Linked DNA regions of Homo sapiens. The protein of the gene in region 2 interacts with the protein of the main gene of each other region in a pairwise test. Each region holds a gene or a part of one and is shown on either strand. Other genes may lie near its edges.

What was found.
Region 1: the proteins of BRWD1 (region 2) and FNDC3B interact in binary tests that used the Homo sapiens proteins (3 or more experiments, as listed by UniProt).

The regions. Positions count from the first base shown.
Region 1 is NC_000003.12:172,042,578-172,050,062, forward strand, and holds part of FNDC3B (fibronectin type III domain-containing protein 3B), read left to right. Parts: intron 1-7,485. UniProt on the Homo sapiens protein: May be a positive regulator of adipogenesis.
Region 2 is NC_000021.9:39,309,818-39,318,933, forward strand, and holds the start of BRWD1 (bromodomain and WD repeat-containing protein 1), read right to left. Parts: upstream 3,816-9,116; 5' UTR 3,675-3,815; coding exon 3,626-3,674; intron 3,483-3,625; coding exon 3,424-3,482; intron 3,285-3,423; coding exon 3,255-3,284; intron 3,084-3,254; coding exon 3,024-3,083; intron 1-3,023. UniProt on the Homo sapiens protein: May be a transcriptional activator. May be involved in chromatin remodeling. Plays a role in the regulation of cell morphology and cytoskeletal organization. Required in the control of cell shape.

The sequences.
Region 1 (7,485 bases), on a different chromosome or scaffold from region 2:
TTATACATTATCTCATTAAAATTCTAGTATTTTCGATTTAGGTTGTGTTATGCACACTTTACAAACAAGGGGATTGAGATTTACAGAGAGAGAGTAACTTGCATAAGATCACGTAGCTACCAATGGTGTCATCCAATGGAATTTTCTTCAGTGTTGGAAATGGTTCTGTCTGTGCTGTCCAGCATAGCAGCCACAAGCCACATGTAACTGAGTCTTTGAAATGTAGCTAGTGGACTGAGGAACAACAGTTTAAGTTTTTTTTTTTTTTTTTGAAATGGAGTCTCGCTCTGTCGCCCAGGCTGGAGTGAGTGCAGTGGCGCAATCTCGGCTCACTGCAACCTCCGCCTTGCTGGTTGAGATGGATTCTCGCTCTGTAGCCCAGGCTGGAGTGCAGTGGCGCGGTCTCGGCTAACTGCAACCTCCGCCTCCCGGATTCAAGCGATTCTCCTGCCTTAGCCTCCCGAGTAGCTGGGATTACAGGCGCTTGCCACCACGCCCGGCTAATTTTTTGTATTTTTTAGTAGAGACGGGTTTTCACCATGTTAGCCAGGCTGGTCACGAACTCCTGACTTCAGGTGATCCACCCGCCTCGGGCTCCCAGAGTGCTGGAATTACAGGCGTGAGCCACCACACCCGGACTAAGTTTTATTTACTTGTAATTATTTTAAACTTAAATTTCCACTTGTGGCTAGTGGTTACCATATTGGAGAGCAAAGTGTAGAACTTTTTGACTCCCAAATCTTTCACATGTAGCTTGGTCATATTGCTCTTTATTTTACTTTGAGACAGACTCTCGCTCTGTTACCCCGGCTGGAGTGCAGCGGCATGATCACTGGCTCACTCACTGTAGCCTCCACCTCCCAGGCTGAAGTGATCCTCTCCCCTTAGCCTCTCCAGTAGCTGGTACTACAGGTGTGCACGCCACCATGCCAGGCTATTTATTATTATTATTGTTTTTTTGTAGAGACAGGTCTCACTAGGTTGTCCAGGCTGCATACTGCTCTTTAGATCTCTTAGTTCATTTTTCTTTCTTCTACGATATCAGAAGTTACATTCAGCCCTTAAATGGAATTTAAAGACTGAGTTAGCTATAGCTCAACTTTGCTTTCATATGTAGAGTGGATAAAATACGCACATTATTTGTTAACTCTTTGGTTTTAAAAACAATGTTTACATGTCATAGTTAAAACTGGTGGAAAAATCTTTAAATTGTATCTTTTTTGGTTTAATATAGGAATTGTGCATAGGAATTGCTGAAAAAGTAGTCAGAACTTGTTGGTTATTTTAGTGTAATAAGAGTACAAATAGGAAGCAATATGAAAAGTCACTAATAGAAAGCTGAAAAAAACGATCCTCTCATACCCGCGTCCATCCGTTCATTGGACAGTTCTTTTCAGACTTTGTAAGTATCAGTAAACCATTACTCACTTTTCCTTATGTAGCTGCAGAAGTAACCTGAAGAATTAAAATTATTCTTTTACTCTCAGTGTATAGAAATCAAATATCAAACACATTGGATTCATCCATGAATTGGGAAGAATATGTGTAAGATTAAAACAGTAAGAAAGATCTGTCCGATGGCAGATGTTCAAATCATTTTCTGATTAGTGGATTTAATTTAAATTCATTGAATTTTAGAGTTTCATTTGCTAAAAGGAATTTCAACAACTTTCTGATTTTGTATGGAATAGTGAAAATTCCAACTCTTTTTTTTTTTTTTTTTTTGGTGTGCTACCCTCAGGAAAAGGCAAATTATAATGTAATCTCTTTTTATTAGGATTTTTAAGAGGCAACTGCCAGGTTCAGTATAAATATATCTGAATCTATTGTATCTTCCATAGTTATGGTACTGTCCTGGGATAATTGCAGTTCATAGTCTTAACTCTAGACATATCCTGGAGGACCTATGTCTGTAAATTATCTTTGAATTGTTCTATGTTATTTTAGTGTTATGTGAATTACATTGCTTCCAGCTCTTTGAAAATCGTTAATTCAACTGCAGGTAAGGCGTCAGTTACTGAGACTGTTCAGATAACTGAAACATCCTGTTCATACCCATTCCTGACCATTGGGACCACTGTACTATTTTCAAGGATAAGATACCACTGTACTATTTTCAGGATAAGAACCATGTTATAAATAGAATTATAGTGTCCTAGTGAGTGTGACAAATATAGGAAACATGATTTAACCCATGACATATGGTTTGATTTGTAGGACATCCCCAAGTGCTTAATACAAATGAGAAATGTACTATAATCTTAAGGCATAAAGATGTTTAAATGATGGACAAAAATTGAGGGCCACATCTGAGCATCAGTTTGAAATCAGAATATCTCCTCTGTCAAGGAGTGACTTTACTTTCTAGCTGGGTCCTTGATAAGCTTTTGAATCTCTCTGAGTCTGGGTTTCCTCATTTTAATATAAGGAGGAAAGATCTAACTCGTACCTTTTCAAATGGTGTCACAAGGGATTAATGAGTCAGTGTATTGAGAAGTGTTTGGCAAAGCCTTATACAAACTCCATAGTTCATTATATTCCAGAGTTTAAAACTGAGCTGGTGCTATGGTATTTCTCTGCACATTTTCAGAGACCTCCAAATTGTGCTTGGACAGTTTGAAAAATGATTTATTTTTCTCTTTGTGATCAGTAAACAAGGTCCAAGCTTTAGATGTTGTATTTTATTTTACCCCACTCCTAATGGAATAGGTGATTTGTGACCTCTGCAAAGTTGTACTATACATAAGTTGTCCCATATCTGTGTTTTTGGGAAGCTGGTCTGTAGCTGGGCTAGTGTTGCTGAAGTGGGCAGGCCAGGCTTGATTCAGGGCTGTTTTTGAGGTGGCGGGAAAAAGTGCAGTCTCTTAGAGGAACGTTCAGTACTGAATGATAAAGGAATAAGGTTTTAGGCCTTGTATGTTACCTTAGCCTATTACTTGAGCTTTCAGCAATTACAGCTGAGAATGGAAAAGAATCGTATTTTCAGTGTAGGGGAGTCTTTGCAACCTACCTGCCTTTCCACTTTAGAAATCACAATTGCCTTTTCTTCTTGTTAACGAGGTTAATCCATTAAGTGGGATATTTATATGGTAAGACATTATTTTCAAGTAAATTAATTCTCACTCTTAAGGCTGTTGAGAATTCACTTAGGTGGTTGAGGAGAAGCTTTGTACTTTAGTTTACTGAGTGTCTCTCTCTCTCTCTCTCTCTCTCTCTCTATATATATATATACACTTTGCCTTAAAATATATATTATGGTTATGGCATTATGTGTTGTAAAGAGGGAGAGAATGCTTGAATTATTGTGGCTAGATAGGGGCAGGTAGACAAGCACAGGCCCAACTGGAAGGATGACTTGATGGTAGTTGAGCACTTTGCAAGGTACCTCCAGTGAGATGCCAGACCCTAGTAACAAGCTCACCTGGAGGGGAGTTTGTTTGTGGTGCAGGTTTAATGTCAAGGACCAGTTCTTGGAAACAGAAGGTATGTGGGGTGCCAGTTGAAGATCAGGGGACAGAAATGTTTTTAAAACCACCAAGTATAAATCACATAAGATCGATAGACAGTCGTGATCAGCCATCTACATACAGATGAGGATGTTTGTCAGTTTGAAAATGGATCGATTGTTGAATTTTTCTTTGTTTCTCCCCAGTTAAGATATGCAAGTTTAGCATTCTGTAAGTGTTGGATCAGAATTTCTGATGCCCTTGGCACTCACTACTCAGTGTCAGTTTAGACATTGGCTCCTAATTTTTTTTCTTTTTCTTTTTTAAGATACAGTGTTTCACTGCTGCTGGAGTGCAGTGGCTCTATCATAGCTTACTATGGCTTCGAACTCCTGGGCTCAAGTGATCCTTGAGTAGGGCTATAGCTAGGACTATAGGTTCACGCCACCATGCCTGGCTAATGTTTTTTTTTTTATTTTTATAGAGACAGGGTTTCACTTTGTGGCTCAGGCTGGTCTCTAACTTCTGGCTTGAAGCAATCCCCCCGCTTCAGCCTCCCAAAATGTTGGGATTATAGGTTATGAGCCACCTTGCCCGGCCCTGTTTTGTTTTTATAATATCATTAAAATACCTCATCAGTTTCAAATAACCATTTTGCAGGGTGGTAGGGGATTTTTCTGAGATGGTGTTGAGTCACAGTGTTATTTGAGGTTCTAGTAAGTATCAAAGTGTGTCTTGTGTTAAATGATTCTATTTGAGCTTAAAATGTAATTTCATTTCAGTTACTTGTTTATTGACTCAGAATGCATTTGTTGAGATCTAGACCAGGTTCTTTGTTAATGGAATGTTCTACTCTGTTCTGATGTTTTTGGAATCTTGTATAGAGAACAGTGTCTACCACCAAACTCCTAAGGCTGGATGGTGGTAAGTTCAACTCTTTGCTACCTTCTGAAATTTGAGAAATAGTAAAATTGGAGCACCTTCAGGCTGTGTTAGACTTTAAGGCTTCTAAATTATATTAGAATGTAAGGATACATCTTTGTTTTGACCCTGGAAAGAGTAGTAAAGATTTTCATAAAGGCCAACTAGTCATAAAAACTTACTTAAATTGACATGATCCTAACTCACAATTATGAAAAGCTTTCTGTTGAAATAATTGTGTAGAAAGTGATCTTTATACATGAACAAAGGTGGGATGTTTTAGAAATAATTGAAGATTCTAAGATCCCAGGAAATATAATGGTTTAATTTATTTTTAAGGGATTTAAGATTCCCCATAGCCTATGAAAGAGGGGTCTCTATTAAAAATAACGCCATTGTTCTAGATGTAGCTAATTAGGGATTTGCAATTATCTAGGCAAGGCTAGGATAAAGTTTGGCTGCCTATTCTGTATGAAAAGGTTTTACTGTAAATATCAAGTTTAAATAGATCTTAAGAGGAATATTTACCTAATTAAAAGAACAAACCACTTTTAAGCACCTTGGGAAAATCAATTTACTTAAAAGCAGTGTAAAAATGCAGAATGCATTCACTGATGCTGGTCTGCTGGTGGTCTTTTCATAGAGATACAGGAGCCCCTGGAAAGTCAGTGCTCTCTGTGGATTGCCATGAAATAAATATTGATTGACTCAATGCTATTATGTGAACTACAAACAGTTTACCAGCAATGGGTAGAACTATATTATTTGCTTGCAAAATACATCACAACAATAAACACAATATCTGCCTCCCCCACCCCACTCCACTCTACCAATAGACTCCAACTATGCCTATTTATTGGTTTTGGAGTTTTTCTATTGACATTTGTTTTGCTACTTGTTAACTTCTTTTGTCATGTGTAAGCATTTGATGGCAGATTGGGGACAGCAGGTGTTAAAGGTTTAAGAGCATCATTATTGCTTTTAGCTTCATTTCTTCTGCCTTTGTGTTTGGGCAAGATTGTGGAGAGTCCTGAGTTTAGTATTTAGATAAGGTAATTACATGTCCTTCTCCTCTACTTTTACTAAAGCAAGATCCTCCTGGGCAGCTTAGTTCCAGGTACTGTATGAACTTGCCAGTAATAAGAGTAAGTTTCTTTTAAAAGATTTCTGGATATTTTACGTTTTATACTCAGTCACTCAGATGCGAGGTTTTCTAGTATGTGTCTACTTAGGGGTCAGATTTGACCAGTTTTTAACAGTACAAGTTGTACATATAGGATACTTAATGTATTTCTAGGATATTATGCTTCATTTTCTCTTAGTATTTTAAAGGTTTTAAAAAACCCATTCTATACCTTCTATATCTTTTATTGTTTAAGTCATTCAATGGGAAAGAAAATAATAAAAGTCTTTAGATGCTGTTTCTGATTTTTCGATCATGGTTTTTTTAATCTCAAGAAAAATAATTCTGATTAAGAAATAGAGGTAAACATTATTCTGAAGTAGTGAATTAGAGAATACTTAAATATATTGAGCTGGAATCCTTGTGTATTGCATGTTGGGAATGTTAAATGATAAAGCTACTGTGGAAAACAGTTCTGTAGTTCATAAATATTTACACATAGAATTACTATATGATTCAGCAATTCCATTCCTATTCCTATACGCAAAAGAAAGCAGGGACTCAGGTACTTAAAAGCCAGTGTTTATAGCAGCATTATTGACAATACCTAAAAGGTAGAAACAACCCATGCCCATCAACAGATGAATGGATAAACAAAATATGGTATTATATATTGGAATATTTTGGTACAGTGGAATATTATTCAGCCATAAAAAAGAAGGCAGTTCTAATACATGCCATAACATGAATGAATCTTGAAAACATTATGCTAAGTGAAATAAGCCGGACACAAGAAGATAAATATTGTATATATCCACTTGCATGAGATGACTAGGATAGGTAAATTCATAGAGACAAAAAGTAGAATAGAGATTACCAGGGCTTGGGGGAAGGGAAGATGGAGAGATAGTGTTTCATGGGTTTAGAATTTCTGTTTGGGATGATAAAAAATTTCTGGAAATGAACAGTGGCGATGGTTGTACAACATTATGAATGTATGTAATGCCACTAAGTTGAATGCAGAAAATGGTAAATTTTTTGTTATGTATATTTTATGACAATTAAAAAATGCAAAAGTAAATATTGAAGATGTATCCTACACAGTCTCCATATGCCTCTTTACTCCCCCTTGGTCTGCTTCAGGCAGGTATATAGTTATTTTTTCTTCATCTGGCTGTTGCAGTGTAAATGGAGATTTCCCTAGGCCATTTTTTGGAGATCAGAGAGTTTCCTTATTTTATTAACTGACTTAAATTTAAGAGGAAAATGTTTAAAAGTAGATCTCTGGAGGGGAAAAAAGGGCATTTTAATATTGAGATGAATCAGGGAGTTTGTTAATATTGGCAGACCATGTAAGCACATGAAGATAATCTATCCTGAATAGCACAGCGAGTCATTTAGAAATCCAGTAGTAGGTGTACACTCGGACCTGTCACATTTTCTAACCTTTAAACATTGTTTTTTGTTTCTTTTTTTTGAGATAGAATTTCGCTCTTATTGTCCAGGGTGGAGTGCAATGGCGCGATCTCGGCTCACCCTGACCTCTGCCTCCCAGGTTCAAGCGATTCTTCTGCCTCAGTCTCCCGAGTAGCTGAGATTACAGGCATGCACCACCACCCCTGGCTAATTTTGTATATTTAGTAGAGACAGGGTTTCTCCATGTTGGTCAGGCTGGTTTCAAACTCCTGACCTCAGGTGATCTGCTCGCCTCTACCTCCCAAAGTCCTGGGATTATAGGCATGAGCCACCGTGCCTGGCCTAACCTTTAAACATTTTATTCATTCTTGACATCATTAGTACTGTGGAAAAACTTTGATTTCTGTTTAAGAGAAATGGTGTAAGTCATCTCTGTACTCATGTTGGAAATGCATTAGGTGTTAGAATTCTTTAGTTCCTTAGACTGTAAAACCAAGTTACAAAAGGGATAGAGTGAAAGAAAACACATAAATTCTGTTTTATTCATCTGAACTTGTCTCTGGCATCTAATGATTGCAT
Region 2 (9,116 bases):
CCGTCTCAAAAAAAAAAAAAAAAAAAAGACACCCAGGGAACAAAAAGAAAATCTGGATATGGACTCTGTGATATTGGCACTTGATGATATAATAAGCAGTCCTTATTTTTTAGAGATGAACTCTGACAAACTTAGAGATGAAATGTAGTGTCTGGAATCTGCCTTAAAACATTCCAACACATTAACCAGTGAAATGAATGGCTTTCTGGAATTTGCTTAAAAACAAGGGAGCAGACAATATGCAACATTCTCTGATAATCACTGAAGTTGGAAAATGGGCACCTAGTGGGTGGGTCATTTATTCTATTATTTTTGTTTGAAGATGTCCATTGATAGTTTCTTAAAACATATGTATACCTCAAACAGAAACCAAAGTAAATATAGCAAGTTAGTAACTTTCAAAATTCAAATTTGTTGGCCAGGCGCAGTGGCTCACGCCTGTAATCCCAGCACTTTGGGACACAGAGGCGGGCAGATCACCTGAAGTTAGGAGTTCAAGACCAGCCTGGCCAACATGGTGAAACCCCTTCTCCACTAAAAATATAAAAATTAGCCAGGTGCCTGTAATCCCAGCACTTTGGGACACAGAGGCAGGCAGATCACCTGAAGTCAGGAGTTCGAGACCAGCCTGGCCAACAGGGTGAAACCCCATCTCTACTAAAAATACAAAAATTAGCCAGGTGCCTGTAATCCCAGCTACTGAGGAGGCTGAGGCAGGAGGATCACTTGAACCCAGGAGGCAGAGGTTGCAGTGAGCCGAGGCTGCTCCTCAAAACAGACTGTCTCAAAAAAAAAAATTATTATTATTCAAATTTGATGATATACAGCGGTGCATTACATTATTCTCATTTGTGTACATCTGAAATACTTCTTTTTTGTTGTTGCGTTTCGAGACAGGGTCTCGCTCACCTAGGCTGGAGCACAGTGGCTTGATCAGGGCTCACTACATCCTCAACCTCACTTTAGGCAGGTCTAGAACTCCTGGCCTCAAGCGTCCTGCCAAAGTGCTGGGATTACAGGTGTTAGCACCGCAGCTGGCCTGGAATACTTCTTAATAAGGTATTTTTAAAAGACTTTGAAAGTTTAGAAACGATACATATACCATTAACAAAAGAATAATTCTCTACACATGAGGCTCATCATCACTCAGTCCTGGGGGACTGGAGGGCAGAGAGGAAGGTAAAAAAAGAAAGGACACCCACCAGACAGACCAAATCAGGGAGGCAATGATAGATGCCATATGTCATAGCCAAATCACAGCCATATTATCACAGAATTTAAGTGATTTTAAACAATAGTAAGTAGGGTTTTAAGCAATTCTACCAACAAAAGCCAAAAAATTTATATAAATTTTTTTTTTAAAAAAAAGAAACTAGGCCTTGCTCCATCTCCCAGGCTGGAATGCAGTGGCAGGAGGATAGTTCAATGCAGCCTCAAACTCCCAGAGTCAAGTGATCCTTCCGCCTCAGCCTCCGAAATAGCTGGGACTACAGGCACGCACCACCACAGCCGCCTAATTTTCTGTTACTTATTCTTTGTGGAGACAAGAGTTGGTCTGAACTCCTGGCCTCAAGTGATCCTCCCACCTCGGCCTCCTAATGTGCTGAGATTGCAGCCATGAGCCACTGCACCCAGCCCCTATAAATGTATTTTAAAAGTAACTTTTCCAGTAGTTACAGCACTACATTTGTTTCAAGTTATTTTCTCTCAGGTAGCACGACAACAGCGTCATAACCAGTAATGCTTTTCCGCTTCACCGATAAGGCTATATTATCCGTGAAGAAAACTAAAAGAGGGCATCCTTTAAATGTTTCCTCAACGTTTACAAAAATAAACTATCTCAAAATGTCAAACTCAACACATTGCCATCAGAATTTTTAGAACTCATTCCCTTGAAAACATCCACTGTTAAAGTGTTTACTTCAAAATCTAAGAAAGCAAATATTAAAATTATTTATTACTTGCACCAGGCTTCAAGTGTTAACTGTTCATGGAAATAACACATCCTCTGGTCTCTTCTGTTGTCTAATTCAAAACCAGTAATCTTCTACCACTTTTTTTTCTTCTTTTCACTTGCCACCATACTCTACCACTCAAGTGTTACAGGTCTTCCAACTGTGGTAAAAGATCACTCAGAAGCTCTTTTCTTTCTCAATTGTTTTCCTTATACAAGATGCTGAATATGGCCTGGCAATTAATGAATTCCTTTATCCTAATAACGAAACGGCAAAAATATATTCCTGAAAAATGTCTCCAGTAAAAACAAACGAATCCCTGCAACTGCTGTAACTATAGATAAAAGCAAGTTATATAGAAACATTAACCAAGTTCACAAAAGAAATGAGACTGTAATGCAAGATTAACCGAGCTCAAAAGAAAAGTGCCTATTTAAAGCACTTTATTGTGTTATCTACAAGATCAGTGTGAAACTCATCAATCAACTACTGCGTTCAACAAATATTGTACAGTAGAAAGGAGCACAAGCACTACAGTGGCATATTCATACAGCTGCAAGATTTTTATGACGCTGCTGACAAAACAAAAAATAAAAAGCTCAACACAAGAACATTTCTCCACCTTCAGAGACCAATGATTCTATTCCTAGGGAACAAGTGGGGGGACAGACCCGGGCGGGGCAAGAGCAGCGAGGCCAATCAGAGCGCGAGTTACAAGCGCGGTGGAGCGGGGAAGCGAATGAAACCGCCCAGTTGAATGGCTGGCTGCGCACGCCACACCCCCGCAGAGGCGGCCGCACCTGGAGCCCCACCCCTGCCGCAGGACCTCCGCGAGTCGCCCCCACCGCTCCGCCCCGCGCCGCCCCCAATGACTGTTTCCTGCCAAAACAAACCTGGCCGCCTCAAAAACAAAACAAAATCTTCAGCCGGGAACGCAGCTATCCCCGGGCCGCCCCCCAGTGCGGGTCACACTTTGCACCCCACGGGCCGGGGTCCCCGCGAGGGGAAGGGGCGGGGGCGGGGGGCGGTGCACGGAAAACCCGGGGAGCAAACGTGCCCAATGCTCACCAACTCCTCGTAGCTCCTGTTGTGCTCGTTGCCCTCCCAGTCCAATCTCTTCGGCAACAACTGGAAAGACACGAAACGCACACGAGTGACCACCCCTCCGGCGCGGGGGGGGCGGGGGGCGGGGGGCCGGGGGCGGGCGGCGGGCGGCGGGCGGGGGGCGCGGGCGAGCATCCCTCAGGGCAAGGTCGGCAGGAGGAACCCGAGGGAGCGCGGGGACGGGCGCGCACAGACCTGGTACTGCTCCAGCTCCTGCACCAGCACCTGCGGCCGAGAGACGCGCGGTCAGGGGTGGGGTCGGGCCCGGGGCGCTCCCGTTTCACCCCCGCCCACCACCCGCGACCCCCGGCGGCGGGGACACTGGGGACGCCAAGTCCGCAGCCGCCCGCGGGCCCGCACTCACCTGGGCCGCTCTCCGACACGGGCCCGCCGATAGGTACCGGGCGATAAGGAAGTACAGCTCTGCGGGAAGACAAGGAGTCAGGTCAAGCCCCGGCGGGGAGGGGAGGGGGACGGGGCCAGGGGAGCCGGGGGAGCCCGGGGAGCCGGGGAAGCCGAAGCAGCCGGGAGCGCCAGGGCGGGGGTGGCACGGCCTCGCGTCTTACCCGACTCGATGAGAGGCACCGGGCGTCGGGCGGACGACGGCTCCGCCATGGCCGGGCGCGGGGCGGGAGGCGGGAGCGAGCGAGCGAGCGGAGCGTGTAGGCCGCGCCGAGGCCTGACCGGGCTGGCGTCCCCTCTTCTCAGGCGCGCGCCGCCGCCGCCGCCGCCGCCGCCATACCGTGCGCGCCGCCTGGACCGACGCCTCCGCGGGGGAGGAAGTAGTTCCTCCGCGGGAGACGAAAAGTAGTCCCTCCGCGGGGGGCGGGGGTTTGCGCCAAGAGAGGACCGGAGCTCGTGTCCCGCCCGGGGAGGCGAACCTCGCTCAGCTCTCTGCCTCCGGGGACTCGATGAGGAGAAAGTGACGCGGAGGCAAAGACCTGGGCGCCGCAGCAGCGAGTGGGGGAGGGGAGGGCGCGTGGTCCGAATCCCTGCGCGCAATGAGGCGGCTGCCCGGGCTTTGTGAGGCGGCAGCGCGACGCCGGGTGGCCCAGCAGCGGGCGGGTGCCGGGGGCGGAAGCGCGGCCACAAGAGGGGGCGATTCACCGCCGCCCCCCGTGGGACCTGGGTCCTCTACGCGGGACCGCAGGGGCCCCGAGTCGCGGGTTGGGCAAGGTCGCCCGCTCCGGGTCGCTCGGAAGGGTCATTTCACGGACCGGTCGTCTGGGGCCAGTGCGTCTTGCCCCGCACGGAAGACCCCTCGCTTCGAGGACAGGAAAGCTTTTAAAGTGAGGATTGGCTCGCCGCGCCTCCCGCAGAGGGGAACGCCGCCCGGACCCGCGCTCCTGGGGCGGGGGCCTCGTATGCTGGCGTTGCCGGAGCGTCTGCGGCGCTGAAGGCTGCCGAGACCCAGCCACATCCCCCACAAGCCAGCAGCCCGGCAGAAAATTACATAAAATGCAGCGCTTCGCCGAGGGGGTGCGAGTCGGGGGAGCAGCGCGCAGCTGCGGCTGACGGCTCGGCTGGATCCATCCAAGCATGGACAGGAAAACGGGACTGTGGGGAGAGGGTGGTGCAGACGGGCCGCAGACCCTCCTTAGGAAGAGAAGCCGGAAACTAGGGAGTCATGTGCAGTTAGAATCCTCTTGGAAGACTAGTAGGATGTGAGGTTGGAGAGGTGGACGACGACCAGAAAATTCCCTTGTCTTGCCAGGCTTCTGACCTAACTATGAGTTTCCTCCGCGCATCCAGCCTGCCCTGCTCTGGCCCCTAAAGTACAGCAGTAACACTCAGTGGTGTCCCTGCCTTCCTGGAATGCGCGTTAACAATTCTGATTCTTACTCATGGCAATAACCTACACACCACATAGACGTTAAATGTGGTTCGGGTCAGACTCTAGGGCAGGACTCACTGCCTGCACCTTGTCTTGGCTCCACCAGCTTGACCTTGAGCAAGTCACAACCTGTGGGTCTCAGTGTTCCTTACTAGTAAACCGTAGGTAATTCCTCACTAGTAAACAGATAATATTTGTGCCTGTCTCAAAGTTGTGAGGATTTAATGAATTTGTGTTCCTGGTATACAGTAAGCACCGTGTACAAGTTGGCTTTTATTTACACCAAATAGCAAAAGCTTTTATTTATTTTGAGACAGGGTCTTGCTCTCAGGCTGGAGTGCAGTGGCGCGATCTCACCTCACTGCAACCTCTGCCTCCCGGGTTCCAGCGATTCTTGTGCCTCAGCCTCCCGAGTAGCTGGAATTGCAGGCAAGCGCCACCACGTCCGGCTAATTTTTATATTTTTATATTTTTAGTAGGGACGGGTTTCACCATGTTGGCCAGGCTGGTCTCGAACTCCTGGCCTCAGGTGATCCACCCGCCTTGGCCTCCCGAAGTGCTGGGGATTACATGCATGAGCCACTGCGCCTGGCCAAAAGCTTTTATATATATTTATAAATGGACATAGATATCTGTGAGGCTGTCGGGTATGGTGGCTCACGCCTGTAGTCCCAAGCACTTTGGGAGGCCGAGGCAGGCGGATCACGAGGTCAGGAAATCAAGACCATCCTGGCCAACATAGTGAAACCCCCGTCTCTACTAAAAATAAAAAAATTAGCCAGGTGTGGCAGTGCGCGCCTCTAGTCCCAGCTACTTGAGAGGCTGAGGCAGGAGAATCGCTTGAACCCCGGAGGCGGAGGCTGCAGTGAACCGAGATCGCGCCACTGCACTCCAGCCTGGGCGACAAGGCGAGACTCCGTCTCCAAAAAAAAAAAGCTATTTGTGAGGTAACAATCTAAATATGTTTGAGCTAGTGCAACAGTAAGTTAACTCCTTACATCTGTTAATTCAGCAAGCACTAACAAGTGATGGAGATTAAAAAAAAAAAAGGAATGAGCCACAGCTTTGCCATCAAAGACTTCAGCGTCTCTTAGGGGAAACAGATGTAAGCAAATAATGACACGATTTAGGGCAGAGATATATCAGAAGATCAGCTTGCCTGTGCGTGGGGGAAATGTTAGGGAAGTTTGGGTTATCCAGGCTACAATGTGTGGAAAGGGATTTCGCACATACAAACAACAGAGGGCCAAGACATGAATATGATTTCTAGTTTAAGGAACCAGAAGTTTAGTATGACTACTTGGGGTGACTTTGGAGAGGATGGGACCATGATGTCAGAAGTTGAAATTGGGAGCAATTGAAAGATTCTAAGCCAGGAAGGAATCATTTTCTATTTTAGGATGGATTTGAGAAAGTTAAGACCAAGAGGCACTTAACATACCCCTGAAATAGAAAAGAAATGATGCATGAGGGCGTTGGTCATAAGGATAGAGAAGAGACAAGATCAGAAGTATGTAGGACAGTAAATCTGCAAGATGAAGTTGGGGTGAAATAAAAACCACAAAAATCTCGTTTGGGGCTTTCCAAGGTTGTGCCAACAAATAAGGTAGGGCATACAGGCTGGTAGCTAGATTGTTAAGATGAGTAACTGCTTGCAACAACTTGATTATTTGAAGTTACAGTGCATAGATGACTGTGGGACAGTGATCTGATGCTGCAAGATTACCAGTGTTACCAAATGACAAAGACATCAAGAGGGGAGAATTTAAACTTTCAATGATTGACCAAGGAGTTGTGCATTTCATTTTGTAACAAGGGCGTAAGATTAAAAACCCCCTAAAGATATTACAAGAATTTATATCCCAAGCTCTGGTCATTGTCCAAAATTATCGTTCTGATACTGGCACCATGATAACCATTACAAGAGATCAGAAATGATGACACGAGCCCAGACACAGTGGCTCACACCTGTAATCCCAGCGCTTTGGGAGGCCAAGGCCAGAGGACTGCTTGAGCCCAGGAGTTCGAGACCAGCCTGAGTAACATAGTAAGACCCCATCTCTACAAGAAATAAAAAATAGCCAGGGGTGGTAGGTGTGTACCTGTAGCCCCAGCTACTTAAGAGGCTGAGGCATGAGAATGGCTAGAGCCGGGGGGGATTGACGCTGCAGTGACCCATGATCACAGCACTGCTCTCCAGCCTAGGCAGCAGAGCAAGACCCTGTCTCAAAAAAAAGACACGATGACATGAGTTTTCCTTTACAAGAGCCTTGGGAGTCCTTTTACAACTTACTATCACATTCATGACAAATATTCTTTCTAAATTTTGAATAGGAACAAAGATTTCTAACAAGAGAGAGAATATCTTCCCGATTCGACTCCCATATGTCAAGAGACTCAGATGTGACTCATATTTGCCTGCCAGGAGGAGGAAAAAGAAATACACTGTCCAGGAGCAACTCCTTAGTGGGTACCCACCAGAAGTGGTCTCCAAACAAGGCAAGAATCTGTGTATTCCTCACACAATTCAATCCCAGCCATTCCATATGTACACACTGAGGTTTGCTTTTGGGTAAATGGAAATAACTTTAGAGTTTCACCACAAGAAAGCTACATGGTAAGCAAGTGTTGGAAAATCTTAACAGTGGGTGACATTAAGCTATAGGGTTGCATTTTCAAGGGAACCAACATCTTATGCCGTGGCAAGCAACTCCTGACTGGATAAACAGCTCTTAGATGTCATTGATAGGCTCAAGCTGAGGCGCAGAGGAAGTATGGCCCAAGGGCATATAGCTGGTAAGTGGTGGCTGGACTGCAATCCCAAGTAGACAGTATTATCTTAGACTGAAACACAAACACTGCAAAGTCCATTCTCCCTTGGCCACGTTTCACAAAAGAGGAAATGGGACCTGAAAATTAGGAGACTTACACAGGATTGCACAGCTAGCGCATCAGAGAGCTGACATTTGGAAGCCCACGTGATAAGTACGTGTGTAATCTCATTTACCGCAGGCAACTCTTAGATTCTGTTATTCCCATTTTAAGAATGAGGAAACTAGTCTGGGCGTAGTGGCTCTCGTCTGTGCTATCAGCACTTTGGAAGACCAAGGCAGGAGGACCGCATGAGCCCAGGAGTTCAAGGCTGGTCTTAAACATAGTGAGACCCTCTCTCTACAAAAAATTAAAAACTTAGTCCATGCATGGTGTTGGGTGACTGTAGTTTGAGCTATTTGGGGAGACTGAGGCAGGAGATCACTTGAGCCCAGGAGTTTAAGGCTGTCACAAGCTATGGTGGTACCACTGTGCTCCAGCCTGGGCAACAGAGCGAGACCCTGTCTCAAAAAAGAATGAGGAACTAAGGCTAATAAAGTTTAAGAATTTGCCTAAAAATGGAAAGCTTTTTTTTTTAATCTGTCTGTGAATGAGAGGAAAATAAAATTCAGTAAGGCCTTCCAAATCACCACTTAGGAAGCCCAACAACGTTAAATATGAATGCATATCTAGAAAATGGTGACCAAAGAAGTCTGGTTCCAACAATTCACATAAGAGAGTGGTCAAAATGGAATGAATTAGTAGATTAGAGTCCATTTCAAAAGACTCTGAAAAATGAGATAAGGAAATCTGTGAGCAATGGAGAACATGCAAAACAACTCAGATACCTAATCCAAAGCCTAATATTAGTTTTAATGCAAATTTGTGTTAACTGAATTTAGGTTCATTCAGGAGGCTGTGCTGATGTTGATGTACACACAACATCAGCATACCTCTGAAGGGCAGGAAGTAGATGACGTTGGACCTCCAGAACACTATACCACAAACTGGATCAGCACCTAGAGGTGAAATTAAATGCACACAAAAACCTGGATCACTTCATTCATTCATTCAACAAAATATGTGTTAAAAGTCTTCCCTGGCTCCTGGGCTGTTTTTTGTTTTGTTTTTTTCCGCTTTAGAGACAGTATGTCATTCTGTCACACAGGCAGGAGTGCAGTGGTACAGTCAGAGCTCACTGCAGCCTCGCAGTCCTACCGCTGAGTACTTGAGACTACAGGTGTGCACCACCATGCCTGGCTAATTTTTTACTGTTTTTTAGAGATGCGGGTCTTGCTCTGTTGCCCAGGCTGGTCTCAAACTCCTGGCCTCAAGTGATCCTCCCGCCTTGATCTTCCTGGACTTCTGTTGGATAAATTCCCTAGGAAGAGGAGAGTTAACACTTCGATAGA